Regions from separate parts of the Homo sapiens genome. Here region 2 is linked to region 1. A link means that fine-mapping ties the variant in region 1 to the expression of a gene that starts in the linked region. Tissue or cell type: fibroblasts. Region 1 holds a variant in brackets; the other region holds the start of a gene. All regions are shown on one strand. Distances are between the middles of the regions.

What was found. PIP is the estimated chance that this variant, and not a neighbour inherited with it, causes the effect.
Region 2: it holds the start of DNAH11, and the variant in region 1 is fine-mapped to the expression of DNAH11 in fibroblasts (GTEx, PIP 0.99).

Annotation. Positions count from the first base shown.
Region 1 is chr7:21,614,489-21,622,488 of GRCh38, reverse strand. It overlaps DNAH11 (dynein axonemal heavy chain 11), which reads right to left. Exons shown (of 82, transcript NM_001277115.2): 21 at 7,217-7,375; 22 at 6,197-6,280; 23 at 4,712-4,870; 24 at 3,267-3,389; 25 at 2,411-2,533. Among named protein-coding and RNA genes, the nearest start is that of DNAH11, 75 kb to the right of the region's middle. The variant A/C (reference allele first, on the strand shown) is at 4,401.
Region 2 is chr7:21,538,695-21,546,923 of GRCh38, reverse strand. It overlaps DNAH11 (dynein axonemal heavy chain 11), which reads right to left and starts at 3,885. Exons shown (of 82, transcript NM_001277115.2): 1 at 3,328-3,885; 2 at 1,775-1,918. The coding sequence starts at 3,678. RefSeq lists enhancers at 763-1,729, 4,062-4,563 and a silencer at 3,964-4,013.

The DNA.
Region 1 (8,000 bases):
GTGCCATATGAACTTTAAAGTAGTTTTTTCCAATTCTGTGAAGAAAGTCATTGGTAGCTTGATGGGGATGGCATTGAATCTATAAATTACTTTGGGCAGTATGGCCATTTTCACAATATTGATTCTTCTTACCCATGAGCATGGAACGTTCTTCCATTTCTTTGTATCCTCTTTTATTTCATTGAGCAGTGGTTTGTAGTTCTCCTTGAAGAGGTCCTTCACATCCCTTGTAAGTTGGATTCCTAGGTATTTTATTCTCTTTGAAGCAATTGTGAATGGGAGTTCACTCAGGATTTGGCTCTCTGTTTGTCTGTTATTGGTGTATAAGAATGCTTGTGATTTTTGTACGTTGATTTTGTATCCTGAGACTTTGCTGAAGTTGCTTATCAGCTTAAGGAGATTTTGGGCTGAGACAATGGGGTTTTCTAGATATACAATCATGTCATCTGCAAACAGGGACAATTTGACTTCCTCTTTTCCTAATTGAATACCCTTTATTTCCTTCTCCTGCCAAAATGCCCTGGTCAGAACTTCCAACACTATGTTGAATAGGAGTGGTGAGAGAGGGCATCCCTGTCTCGTGCCAGTTTTCAAAGGGAATGCTTCCAGTTTTCGCCCATTCAGTATGATATTGGCTGTGGGTTTGTCATAGATAGCTCTTATTATTTTGAGATACGTCCCATCAATACCTAATTTATTGAGTTTTAGCATGAAGGTTGTTGAATTTTGTCAAAGGCCTTTTCTGCATCTATTGAGATAATCATGTGGTTTTTGTCTTTGGTTCTGTTTATATGCTGGATTACATTTATTGATTTGTGTGTATTGAACCAGCCTTGCATCCCAGGGATGAAGCCCACTTGATCCTGGTGGATAAGCTTTTTGATGTGCTGCTGGATTCAGTTTGCCAGTATTTTACTGAGGATTTTTGCATCAATGTTCATCAAGGATATTGGTCTAAAATTCTCTTTTTTGGTTGTGTCTCTGCCCGGCTTTGGTATCAGGATGATGCTGGCCTCATAAAATGAGTTAGGGAGGATTTCCTCTTTTTCTATTGATTGGAATAGTTTCAGAAGGAATGGTACCAGTTCCTCCTTGTACCTCTGGTAGAATTCGGCTGTGAATCCATCTGGTCCTGGACTCTTTTTGGTTGGTAAGCTATTGATTATTGCCACAATTTCGGAGCCTGTTATTGGTCTATTCAGAGAGTCAACTTCTTCCTGGTTTAGTCTTGGGAGGGTGTATGTGTCGAGGAATTTATCCATTTCTTCTAGATTTTCTAGTTTATTTGCATAGAGGTGTTTGTAGTATTCTCTGATGGTAGTTTGTATTCAACTCTTGTGGAAGTCAGTGTGGCGATTCCTCAGGGATCTAGAACTAGAAATACCATTTGACCCAGCCATCCCATTACTGGGTATACACCCAAAGGATTATAAATCATGCTGCTATAAAGACACATGCACACGTATGTTTATTGTGGCACTATTCACAACAGCAAAGACTTGGAACCAACCCAAATGTCCAACGAGGATAGACTGGATTAAGCAAATGTGGCACAGATACACCATGGAATACTATGCAGCCATAAAAAATGATGAGTTCATGTCCTTTGTAGGGACATGGATGAAATTGGAAATCATCATTCTCAGTAAACTATCACAAGAACAAAAAACCAAACACCGCATATTCTCACTCATAGGTGGGAATTGAACAATGAGAACACATGGACACAGGAAGGGGAACATCACACTCTGGGGACTGTTGTGGGGTGGGGGGAGGGGGGAGGGATAGCTTTAGGAGATATACCTAATGCTAAATGACGAGTTAATGGGTGCAGCACACCAGCATGGCACATGTATACATATGTAACTAACCTGCACATTGTGCGCGTGTACCCTAAAACTTAAAGTATAATAGTAAAATTTAAAAAAAAGAATAAAATCCTGGTTTGCAACAACATGGATGACCCTAAAGGACAGTGCTAAGCAAAATAAGCCAGGAACAAAAAGACAAATATTGTACGATGCCATCTACACGTGGAATCTAAAAAAGTTGAACTCATAGAAACAGAGAGTAGAATGATGGTTACCAGAGCCGGGGGGAGGGGGCAAGAGGAGCTGTTGATCAAAGGGTACAAATTTTCAGTTAGACAGGAGGAATAAGCTTTAGTGATCTATTGCACAGTTGGTGACTACAATAAATAATAATGCATTGTATGTTTCAAAATTCCTAAAGGAGATTTTAAGTGATTCACCACAAAAAAAATGTTAAGTGTATGAGATGACGGTTAGCCTGATTTAATCTTTCCACATTGTAAACATACATCAAAACATCACATGGTACCCTATATATACAATTATTTGTCAAATAAAAATAAAATGAAAAATATATGCAATAAAAATATCCATCTTACTTGGTTGTGCTCTAGAGTTTCAAAAAGTTGTTCATCAGACTTTAGTAATGGAATGCCTGTTCGATAGTGAACTTCGTAAGAAAACTTCATGGTTGCCCAGGTCTGACTGATTTCAGTAATAACCTAGTAATCAACAATATAATTAATGTGCACAAAATTTAATTGATAATCAATATGTAGACTATTATCTGGAATTAATTTTTTTCAACTTTCAAAAATGCAAACTGATATCAAGTATTATTGGCTTGAGTTTTTTCCTCCAAGTAATTCATGCTAATGGGGTTTGAAGAATGAATTTTATCACATCAAAGGTATGAGCATCACACTAACATCAAACTTCTACTGAATGTGAGTTTATCATCCCTAACCAAAACACAATTCAAGAGCAGGAAGGGACTTAAATGTTTGGTAGATACTATTTACAAATTAGCCAGCATGAAACAGGTAATGCCTCAAATGTGAATGAATCTCAGTCTTCTGTGTGAATCTGGGTAAGTTAATTATCTCTTTATACCTCAGTTTCCCCATGTGTAAAATAGAGATACTATTACTTACCTCAGAAGATTAAATGGGTTAATATAAATAAAGCACTCAGAGTGGTGTTGGCTACAAAATAAAGGATATGTAAGTATTTTCTGCTATAATCATCATCATCAACAAGACCAATCCTCCTGTTTTACTGTGGCTTAGAATGATTCTAGTTCCTGCTCATCCCACACCTAATGAACAGCAGGGAACAAACTGGGACTCATCTCTCCAGGCTCCCAGGACATCAAAAGGACTTTTCTCTAAGTTGGCTTCTATGCAAATACCCAAAATTAGCCAAGTAGAAATGACCCAGTCCCGAGGACACTACCTTCTCAGTCCCCAGCTCTTTCACCGCCTTGTCCACAATCCTTCGGACATCATCTTCCACTCTGTGTAACCGCAGTGCTAACAAATCTGCCAAAGTTGTGGCTTCATTTATTAAAAACTTGACCTGATTGGGGGAAAAAAAGTTAGACTTTATATTCCACATATATGAACGGTTCCTTTTGCCTAAAGGCTGGTGAAATGAATCTTAACTAAAATATACTCAAGTCAGGTGCTGAGTACATCTCTCGTCTTGAAATACGTGGAGAATCTAAGACACTCCTTTTTAACTCACAATTCCTGAGGCGTCACCTGCCGGAAGCAAGGGCCACAGTTTAGTCACATCCGTGCTACACTATTTTCTTTGTTTCACATCTTTCCCTTGTCGGCACGTTTCTTATCTCCTTTGCCCACAAAACCCATTTTTAAAGAGAATCTCATTGTTCATTTATTATAATTTGGTTGAAATCCCAGGAATCAGGTAGTGGCTCATTTGTCTTTTCTTCCTAAAGAACCCTATTCACTGAACATAATTCCCAGCTGCTTCTGTGATTTAACCTAGTTTTATCACTAATTTAATCTCAGTTCATTGGCAAAAAAAATAGTCTTACAGTGTCATTATTCATATTTACCATGTGAAAAATAATTCTCATTTCCACATTGTCTTGTGACAATGACTCCCCTTCTCTCACATTGACTCTCCTTCCCTCCCCTATATTGGGTCCTTGAGACATCCTCAGCTCTTCGACATACCCAAACTCACTCATGTCTCCTGTAAGTGAAGAGTTGAGCCAGCCATATGGGTTGCAGGAAAGCCATTTTCTTTCCGGCTTTTGCTAAGAATATCCAGAATCTGCTTCTTGGAAGCTGCCACCCTCTGCCCCTCCCTACCCTCTAACATTCCTTAGCACCATCCACGCCTCTGCATAAGAGGACCAAATGCCCTGATTTGCTCCGGACTGAGGGGTTTCTAGCAAGTGGATTTCAGGGATGTGATACTTTCAGTGCTAAAATCTGGAAAGTCCTGAGAAAGCTAGATGAGTTTGCCAGACTATCTCTGTGTCAACTTTGGCCTCACTCCAGAGTTGCTGGGAGCCAGGGAGCTAGGTCTGTCCTTGAGAAAGAATGAGGAGAGATG[A/C]GTAATAGGGCCACCCTGATTAGTTGTGCAATCTGTGTACTGAACGTGGACACCAGCCCAGATGACAAATGGAGATGGAAGCCAGCCTCCGCTCTGCTGTCCTGGGGACAGCCTGGAGGAGGGTGCCTTTTTCTAAATTGTTGGTCGGATCAGGCGACTTTTTCTAGACAGCAAAAAGGCATAACACAGCAAGTAGAGGCTATGCTGAGGGGGGTCTTTTCATAAATTACACTTCATCTCAGATGATGCAAACCAAGAAGTAACACTTCACAGTCATAAAAAGGTTCATTAGTGAGACCAAGGATACTGACCCCAATAGCTTTCATCAGCTGGTGCCAATGCCTGTCCCTGAGGGCAGGGCTCTGTAACTCTGTGATGGCCCTCAGGGAGGCTGTCATGTCCTTAACTGTGCCTTCCAGGCCCGTGTAAGCATCCCAGACGCGGACTTCCTTGTTGAGTGACCAAATTTCCTAAAGAAAAGTGGAGGAAAAAACCTAGCTCCCAAGATATAACACAGTATATATTAATAATTTGCCTCCTTTGACATATATTTCCCAACTCCTGGATTAGAAAAGAGTGAAAGCATTTGAACTCCTAGACCAAGGAGCAAAACCAGAGAAACGAAAAGGGATCCACTCATTTGTACATTACAAGCCCACTCCGTACAAGCCACTTGTATACACTGCTTTCTCATTCACAAGATCTAACTGAATGTCCCATGAGGAAACACAGGTAAGTAACAGAGTTCACAGGACACGTGCAATGAAGAATGTTTCTTCTATAAACATAAGTAAATGGAAACAGACTGTTATCAGATTACTAAGACCTCCTTCGGAATACATGACTCATTTAAACAACAGCCTTGGAATGTTGATTACCTTTGAGTGCCTGTTTCTTGAAACCTAAATATTTCATCATCTTAAAATGCCAAATAGGTCCTTTGACTTGGCTGGTCCTCTCAGCCCAAGGAAAAACATCAGCAATTGTGAATGAGAAAACCCATAAGAAAACAACTAGAACTTAGCACGAAATAAAGGACAATGTGACCCCATGACATCCGAAAGAATGAAGGGACATTTTAGTTTGGGTCTTTGGGACTGGCATAATATGGGGGAAAATACAGGCGAGAGTGGGTAGAAGCTGAGGCAAGGAAGCCCTGGGGTGGAAAAAAAGCAAATGGTCCTGTCACTTTTAACTGCCTTTCACTGATATGCATTTTGCCTTTATCCAAAGATGCTCTGTCTTCAGAGGGCATACGGCTATGCAGAATAGACATCAAATTCCAATAAGTACCAAATTACAATAGGCTCAGTTCTGTATATGTTGAGCCCCCTTGGGATACCAGAGTCATTAATAAGAACAAAGATCATAGTATTCCGCATAAATCCAGAGGTGGCATGCTCCTATTAGTTGCCCCAAATTCCAGAGCCAAAAGGTACCTTTTCAGATACAAAATGTTTATGGTTGCTAAGCAAAGAAATCAAAAGCTTTCAGAAGCCTGACCCCTTGGCCCTGATAATGTTCCTCTCTGTTCTAGGAAGCTGTAGGAAGCTCATAATTAGAGTAGCTTCTCATAAATTCATTAACCCTAATATGCTTCTATCAACTCACTCACAGAAAGACAGGCTTGATTAGAAGTGCAACTGGCTAAGGGTGAAAAAAACACTGTCTGCTATCACTCTGTTAGAAGTAAATAAGTACATGCAGCCCAATACACCAGATACTAGATTAGGGAAGATGGAAGGAGGTGGTGCTGAGAAAGATAAATTGTTGTAATAGACAGTTATGGAACTCGCCTTGGCAAACCTTCTGAGTTCTACATCCATCTGTTCCACATGAATCTGTCTCCACTGGGTTTTAGTCCAATTATCAATGCTTCTCTGAAAACGCAAAAGCAGATAAAAGTGTCAACAACATTTGGTGAAAGCAAGTCTCTGCAGCAAAATATATAAACTGATGATACACTGTAACTCTATCATCCAGTGGAAAGTCAATTTTTAAAATATTAACTGCACTTGTCAAAACTTCCCTATCACCAAAACAAAAAAGTTGTCAGAACACGTCAAGCTAAAGGCTAAAACATTATGATATATTAATTTCTAGTAGCGATGATAAATTCCATACACATACCATCATTATCACTTAATCCTGTGTACTTTGAATAAATTGATAAGTAGATTATTAAATAACAGACTTTTATAATTCTACATGTAACTAAATAAGCTTTCACATGACAATTTTCAACCATTATAAACAAAACTCTCATCAACCATTTCTTGACCATATTTTATATTTTGTTAATATATTTCTATATGGCTTTCAACTAACATAAAAGATTATAGTGCTTGTTGCAATATGCCTCATTCCCTAGAACTTACTTTTTCACTTAAGTTTTTAACTTAATTAACCACATACAAATTATTTTTAGGAAGGGTCTGTTTGTGTATGCCCAGGCATGTAAGTATAAGCATAGGAATATGTATGAGTTGGTATGCACAGATGACTACACATGTAATATATATTTATATATTAATTTTTATTTTATTTATATTCTTTACAATCTCCCCAAAGGATTTGAGGCAGTCAGCTTATTAAACAAAGTTTCATCCTGAACTAAAAATAAAAACAACTGGTATTCAAAGAAGAATCATCCACTAACAGAGATACATGAACTCTAATTTGGGGCTGGGGTGAGGATCTAATTTCCACATATTTCAAGACATTATAAAACCCAAATAGAATAATATAGGCTCCACAAACTGCATATGTAAAAGAACTACTAAATAAAAAGCATGTTTTGAAAAAGCACATCTTACTCGAACATAAATAATGACATCCCACAGTCCCTTGAGCAATTTTATTTCTTTGCGACACTGTTTCATTTGTTTGTACTCTGGAAGAGCCACTTCAAAAAGACGAGTAGATTCTTGCATCTGCAACATTTCTTCTTCTAAGGCCTCAAGCTCTTCATTTGCCTAAGGAGAGAACATAAACACCTGCATACAAACTGCCAGAGAAAGAGAAGACATGCAGTTCTGTAGCTCTGGTTATCTCGACATTTCAATCTTTGATTTTTAACGGGAAAATAAAAATAAATCTGCAGCGTAATTACTGGCAAAATGTAGGTTTTAGAAGAGCAAACTCAGCTGCACAAAAAGTGAGAACAGATTACTGTTAAACACAGTAACTTCAACAATACTGTCCCTATACACGTATTAGCAAAATTTCTTCTTCATCAGATTTCTCTGAATACAATTTTTCCTCTTGGTTTTTGTACCGAGAGCTGGGGAATTTGCTGAAGAACAAAAGGTGGGGCTCTAGAAACTTCCATGTAAGAATGAATTATATTTTAAGTAATGACTTAGTTTATTAAAACTTTCAGATTTAAAAAATACCCTACAGATTATCAATAATATCAAATGCACTCAAGAGAATTTGTGAAATAAAGCATAAAGCTAAAAACACAGCCCAGTATGAAAACATCACCATATGACTGTCTTTATCAAGGTTCAATTATATACCCCATCTACATAGAATAGTTTACATTTTACACCAAACGTAAATGCTGACATGTTTTTTCTTTTGTGATGACCAAGTCTT
Region 2 (8,229 bases), 76 kb after region 1:
ACTGTGGGGTTTCTCTTTATGACAGTTCTTAAACCATTCAATACAATTACTGAGGAAACACTTTTAAAATACAGAAGCCCAGGCCCCTCTAGATTTTTTAAATTGGAATTTCCAAGGATGGGGCCCAGATATTGACTGAGAAGAACCAAATGACATTTTCTTTATGTCTTGGTAAGCATTCACAATTATTGTTTCTTTTGAAATGTGGGCCAACGTGATACATAAAGAAATAACCATATGACATTTTATATACTTTGGCTAAGTATAAATATATAATACACTCTGGTATGGAAACACATCATAATGTTGAGGAGCAGGCATACCTTTTTCAGAATATTAAGCAGATCCTGGTACTGAGAGAAAGAGTAGAGAAATTTGAAAAAGGCTTGTATCTTCTGTTGCCAGACACAGATAGTAGAGCAAGAATTTCACAGTGTAGCCCTGCCCCTCCAAGTTCCAGTTGATAGTGGTCTAGATTCTCATATTGAACCAAAGTCATCAGATTCAGTTCAATTAAAATCTGAGCACCTGCTGCATACCAAAAATTGTTCCTGGTACTGAAGTTAAAAGATTGTCTTCCTAGCACCTCCCTGAAATCAGCTAAAGCCAATTAAATTCAACAGGAGCGAAGGGAAACCCAGGCAGGGTACAGGAGTTAGGGGTGAGAGACTTTGGTTAGTCCAGCAGGAAAATACCTCCCTTCAAAAAGACAGAAGAAGAGACTCAAAAAGTAGAAGAGGTGTGATCATGAGAGACTGGTAAATAACTAGCAATAAATATGTCAGCATTTTTCCTACCTTAAATATCGGCCTTGGCAGGACTACACTGATTACAGAGGTCTGATTTAGAAATTGGCCTTGTAGACAGATATCTAACCCAGTGGCTCCCAAAGCTCACTGTACATTAGAATCACCTGGGAATCTTGAACAACTGCTGCTACTTGGCTCCCATTCAGGACGTTCTAAATTAACTGGTATGGGTGTGACCTGGGGCATTGTGTTACAAGTTCCCCCAGGTGATCCTAATGTTCAGCGAAGTTTGAGAGCCAGGTTCTAGTTCCATGGAACCTGGTTATTTGGCAGTTGTTCTTCAAAGCTAGTCCACAAACAAAGAGCATCAGCAACAGGTTAGAAATGCAGAACCTCGGGCTCCACTCTAGACTGAATGAACCAACCTCTTTCACAAAATCCCCAGGCAGTTCTTATGCACATTAAAGTGTCAGTAACATTGGTTGAAGACTATTTCTCTATTTTAAGAGGAGAAAAAGAAAGTTTAAGAACCATTTCTAACACTTTCATCACCTTTTCCCATTATCTGCCATGAGTGAATCTTAGTCTTTAACTGTTAGTTTCTAACAAGTATAAAAAGGAACTGATAATACTCATTTTCAAAGTGTAAATTTGTCTCTACTCTGAATGTGAAGCTTAAAACCTGCTGCTAAGGTGCAAGAACCTATTCAAGTTGCTTTTTATTTGCTTCTATTGTGTTGGAAGGAAGAAAGGGAGAGAATGATCCCTGCAATTGCCACCTGTTGAATATTAGCATCAGTAAGCATGAGCTCCTTTCAGGAACAGTCTAGATGTTATGACTCCATCCACCTGGCTAGAGACTCCTGGCTTCTACAAGCTTTTTTTTTTTTTTTTTTTTTTAACCACCCCCATCCCCTTCCCTTCCCCTCCTAGCTCTTCTTTTTTTAATTATCGGAGTTGTCCTAAATAATTTCAAATGTCATGGAGATAAGTGAAAGCTTTAAATATTAAAGACAGACCAGTACCTCATCAAGGAAAGCAGATACATGTCCAAGAGACAACGCAGGTAACTCTCCAAATAAAACCACTTGAGAAAAGTCATTTACTCCAATGCTTTCAGTAATCTTCTTGGAAATAAAAACAAGTTTATGGTTTGCATCTCTTGGAATCTAAAACAAGAGCAAGATAATTAGTTCAAGTAGTTTTCTTGTTAACAAGCAGGATTTACTATATCCAACTTGTAGCTGTATTGCTAGCAGAAGAAACAAAACCTGGCATCTTGCCTGCCCTATAAACAAGGTCCTTCTACGGCTCTTCCCTAGTATGCAGCGAGTATACAGTTTTCTTTGTTCTTTTATAATGCTAATTTCACAGCATTACTGGTGTGGAAATATCACCTTTTAAAGGCATGCCAATTATACCAGTTCATTATACACCAAAAAAAAAATCTTATAACTAAAAACAAATAAGGAGCACGTAGGCATGTAGAAATGTTTCAATCCTAAAGGGTTATTTTTTATACTCTTCTCTGGTTTGGAAATAAGCCAAACTGAGATAAAGACAAGCCCAAGAGGTTAATTTGTATTTCTATCAAAGAATAGAACCGTATAACCAAAACATGCTAACATTTCCACAACTACTGAGTCATTCCATTGAACATTATAATAACTATTTAACTTAGGTAATACTAGAGTTGTGTTCTATCGCCTTGTCTACTGACAAACTTATTTTTTTTAAAGTTACAATTAGGAGAGTCCTAAAACAAAAGAATTCAAAATTCACAATACCATAAGGCAGCCTTCCTATTACTCTTTCTTCTCTGAGATCCTATTTCCCAACTATTACAATGACCACACCTAGTGATAAAACGACATAACATGTTAAACTGAGCATTGCGCTACTTAAAAATTGTGAATCTTGCTCCAAACTCATCATACTTGAAAAATACTAAATACAAGTGCTGTACGTTAGGTGATACGTTAACCTTTTAGTGGACAAATCATCGAAATTCAAAAAGAAAAGGAAGAAAAAGAAGAAAGGAGGGAACTGTTCCCTCTAAATGTTCAGTAAACACCCATGTGTGCGGAGATTGCAGGGGCCTTCCTTTTTAAGGACTTAATGTTTTTGCCTGGGGTGAAGTGTTGTTGGCACGTAATCAAAATACGTGACGAGTTACATGCGCTCTGCCAAACACCCCATTTTTTAAAGGATGTGACTCCAGAGTGACCCAAGAGCAACTGAAACGCAAGTTTTTTGGCACAGAAAGCCCACCTGGCGCCTAACACCCAAGCAGCTAAAGAAAGCGCTGGTGTTCTTGGGTTATCCTGGTCGAACAGGCTCAACGCGGGATTCTCGGTCAGATACAAACTGCTGACTTAGGAAACTAACCTGCAGCTGCTGAACTGCAGAGTGGGTGCACGTGGGGAGGAGTCCTGCGGGCCTCAGGATGGGGACTTCAAGCCAAGTTTGTTAAAGTGCCCGAGTGAGCGCCCCGCGGGAATCCAAAGGGGAGCGACTGGGCTGTCTCCCCTGGGTAGTTTTGTTGGATGGGCAGGTCCCCTTGCCCGTCGCCTCTTACCTCCTGGGAAGCCGCAAGGCGCCCCGAGGCGGCGAAGCTAAACACAAGGCAAGCCGGGCTGGTGCTTTCCAGAAACTCCCCAAGAACCTGCCGGTTGTCCTCGCTTTCCAAATACTGGCTCCATTTCTCCTCCGTGAACCCCAGCATCATCGCCAGGCGGCCGCCGAGGAAGCGCACCCGCGCGTCTTGGGCGAAACTCCGCGCTCTCCTGGCCGCCGCCTCCTCCTCGTTCTCCTCCTCCTCCTCGAGCTCCACAGCGCCCACTGCCTCCAGGCCGGCCCCCGAGGTTAGGCGAAGGGTCGGGGCTTCTCTGAAGTCTCGCGCCTCCCGGGCTGCCACCTGGGCTGCCATTGGGCAACCGTCCGAGGGAACGCGAGGCCGGCTGGCTCCTCACCCGAGACTCTGGGCCCCCCGAAGTGAGCGAGGACACCTCCGCAGGCGCCCACCCTCCTCCGCGGTCGCCGCGAGCGCAGACCCTAGTCTCCCACCTGCTGCTACTTAGCAGCCGCGCCACTGCGCACAGCTGTAGCCTCGCAGGCCGAAGCGAAGGCCTGGGACAAGCAGCGCGTCCCGTTTCCCGGGGGACGGTGTCCCCGCCCCAGCCCGCTGGGGGCGGAGTGAGCGCACCGCGCCACCGCCCAGTATACGCCAAGGCCAAGGCCGAGGGGAGAGGCCCTCGGGCTCTAGGTCCCGAACACGGCCGAGAAGCCGCGTGTCCGGGGTGGGTCTGAGCCCCCAGTGCGCTCGCTCCACTGCCCTCCGGCTCCTTCGCCTACTGGACACTTGGTGGAGATCCCAGCATTGGTTAAGTGCTCTGGATGAAGCAATGCTCTCTTGTGCCAAGGTCCGTGCTAATCTCTTACCTTGACTAGTTGACATAATCCGTAGAAAGCCAAGTCTCTGACTGGTCAGTCTTTGTTTTATGGGCAAGGAACTAAGTTACAAAAATAAGTAACAGAGAAGTTTCGGGGCCCAAGTTGAAGGCTGTTATTCACCTTTCCCAAGGTGTCCAAATATTACCAGAAGAGAGCCAGTCCTGCAATTCAACTTTCCTAGTTGTGGGAATCCAAGATCTAAGTATTCGAAGTCCTCCTGATTGCCATCCTCAACCTGAAACTTACTGGAACTTCAGTACACCCAGTAAGAGAACGCACAGTGCCCTTTCGTGATCTCCAAAATGTTCCGAAAATCTATAGATTTATCATTTAATTCAAGAGTAAAAAGGTCAAAGAGAAAAAGCTTCAGATTAAAAACAGTTTCATGATACTGAAATAGGATTTCACTGCGGTCCATTAGTGGCTTTCGTTGAGACTCTTATGGAAATTCTAATTATTAAAGCAACCAGAATTTTGAGGAGGAGTCCTCAACTAAACTTTTAAGTCTCCTTTGTTAATTGTTTATTTCAAACTAAAGTCTTCAATCCCCACCCCTTCCATGGGGGCTACTGAAGGACTGTTGCCCACAATAATCCATTTAATACCTGAATGTTGACAGACATTTCCAGAAGATGAGGCTTCAACAATTTTTTTCTTTGCAGGATATTAACTGCCCCTGAAAACCATCGACAAGTTTCCAGTTATGTGATCAGAATCTTGAAATAACACAGGGCCTTGGAAAACTTTGATAATGACTTCTAACCTGTCAAGGCTGCTTTATATTGTCCATAATAATCTTTGGGGCTCCCAGTTGCTGGTATACAAGGCTGGCAATCACCAGTTCCTTCTCTCCCCTCTTATATTCCAGCTTCACATCCCTGTAACCTAGAAAACCGGGAATTCTGTAAATAATAGTTGAATTAAATTGAAAGTGAATAACCACTTTCAAATCTAGCAGGAAAATTTTTTAAATGATGCTAACTTTAAAGTGCAATTTCCAAAAAGTTAACTATGTAACTCGAAATATAAGATGAAGATATGTCAAAGATTGATTTAACTCATAAATGAGGAAAGCAACAAAATGATGTAAGTTCCAAGGACAGTTCGAGAAAGAAATTTAGCAGCATTGGAGGAAGACAGGATGAGTCAGCTTGCTAGGTTCAAAACAACACTCACTAATGTCATACAGGGCAAAATAATCCTTTGTTTTTTAAAAAATAATTTGTTTTTCCAAAATAAATTACATCTGTATTGAACAAAAATCTGTAAATAAAAACGTAACTTCAGAGTTTGAGACTTCGATCAGTAGTAGTTAATGAGTCCAAAAAAGATACTTTTCCCTAAATAATTAATAATCCTTTCATTGGCCGGTGAAGCAGTGTTTCAATGTGACAGTGAATGAACATGGCTTTACCTTGTTCCCAAGTTTTATGTATTTTTTCTCAATAATAATAGCTAACATTGATCAAGTACCAATTATGTGCCATGTGCTGTGCTGAGTTCATTCATTTGTCTAACAAATCTTTACTGAATGCCTACTAAGTGCCAAGCACTGTTCTAGGTGCTGGGAAATATAACAGAAAACAAAACAGATTAAGTTTCTACCCTCATATTGGAGATACAGGCTAGATTTCTACTGAATAGAGTGGAGCTATACCAACTGAATTTGCATTCCATTTCTATTTTCTAGGTGCCTGAGTTTCCTCACCAGAAATAGGAAAAAAAAAATGGTAGATGAGACTATTTTTTAGCAAATATCTCTCCCCCAACCCCACCTTCATGAAAAGAGTATGCTTATACCTTTTTGTGCTATTAAAGTTGTGGCTGGCCATGTGACTTGCTTTGGTCCATAGGATATTGGCAGACATAACAAACAGAGGCATCGCTTCTTTTGGCTAAGATCAAGTGTAGTAGCAAACAGATGCTTGGAATGTCTTTGCATGGTGAGGCTTGCCTTCTTGTGCCTCTGCCACTGTCTTGAGAAGAACATCCCTAGTTAGCTTGCTAATGCAGGGAACCAGCCTGGACCCGACTTTTGTAGCTCAGAGGCAAGTCCAGCGAAGGCTAGTCTTGATCAATCTACTCTCAGTCAGCCCACAGATGCATGAAAATAATGAATGATTATTGGTTTTAAGCTACATAGTTGTGGTGAGGTTTGTTATGTAGTGATAGTATGGTAATAGTAAATGATACACCACATCATAGAGTTGTTGGGAGAAATAATTCAGCTTAAATATGTTAAAAGCACAAACAGGCCAACGCCTGGCACATTTATTATTAGTTGTGGAGGGGGAAACATGAGAAACTAGGCAAGCAAAGATATAATATGTTTATTATGTCAGATGTGACAGGAAATTAAATTTTGGGACTCTAAACTCGTTTAGCCAATGGGAAAAGTCAAGCTGGGAACTGGGTCATGCAAATCTGCCTCTCCCTTTTCGTTCCTAAATAAGATGGCTACAAGATGAAAGGCTACATGCCTCCCCCATATTTTGCCCACAGGGAAATTATGGGTGAGCTGTTAAAACTTCACCATAGCAATGCAAATTGATAGCTTGTCTTTCCAGGTGCAATCACCCACCAGACACAAATGCATATCTGATTGTTCCCCTACCCCATTTTGTTATCTTATGTAAAATGCGATTCCTCACATTCTTCCTCTGCCCCCTTTTGTTTATGTGAAAACCTGTGTGCTTCTCAATATCCCGCCCTTTCCCCTTTAAATTTGGAGCCCTCAAATTTATCTTCGGAGAAAGGCATAGACTTGTCTCCCAGAGTGTCCTTAACTTTGGCAAACAAATCTCCTAAAATGATTGAGACTTGTCATTTTCCTCGATTGACACAGATGATCAATTCTAAGAAGAAAAGCAACGGAGGGTAAAAGGTTGGGTATGGAGAGCATGTTAATTACCATTGGTGTTTAAGGAAGGGCTTACTTTTGAGCAGAATTCTGAGAGTGAGCCATGCGTTCTGGAAGAACACTTCAGGCAGAGGGAAGGGCAAGTAGACCCACAAGAGAGGATGCTTGATTTTTGGAGAAACAGCAAGAATGCCAGTAAGAGGGAGAATAGCAAGAGATGAGGACAAAGAAGAAATATGAGACAAAAATCACATAGGGCTGTGATAATAGCTAGATTTTTTTAAAAGAAGATGATGTAGCAGAAACTGCTAACTGTCCCCAGTGTCCATTCACCTTTTCCTTCTCTTGGAAATACGACATTTACCCCTGTTCCAAGTTTTAATGGGACTCATGTCCACCCAAACTGTATACCTCATTTACTTTTCACTTCACATTAGCTAAAAGGGAAACTAGGAAATTTTCTTTGTAGCTAATGTGAAGTGAAAGTAAATGAGGTATAAAATGCTTGTATCATATTCTTAGAATTTCCCAGTTCTCCATTTCCTCTTGTCTTTCCAACTTGCTGACTAGTATATCAACATGAAATGCTGAACCGTGTTCAATTATGCAAATGTCCCTTAAACATATAGCAAGATGCTCAACTTCCCTCACAAAAGAAAAATACAAATTCAAACAAGAGTACAAGACTATTTTTTCACTTACTGGTTTTAAGAATGACATCATATTATTGGCATGGCTGAGGAAACAGGCACTTTCATACATCACTTCTGGAAATTCAAAATGATATAACCCCATAGAATTCACTGATTTCTAGAAAAAATCCTACGCATTTGTCCTTTGACCCAGCATCTTTATTCTAGAAATCTACGCACAAGGTTAGTCATTATAGCACTAATGGTAAGAGCAAAACACTGGAAATAAGCCAAATATCCTGCCATAGGAGATGGGTTCAATAAACTATCTAACATCCAAACAATGGAGTAATATACAGCTAAGAAAAAAGGATGCAACCAACTGGGGCCTCCTGGCACCCCCACCCATGTTCTATAGCCGACAGAGTTCTAATTTAACCCTGGGATGGATTGCCCAGAGTGCAGGACAGGCTACCACCTTGGCTGTTTGTGTGTCTCAGCCAGGCCAGCCTATGGGTCTTGGAGAGCTCAAACC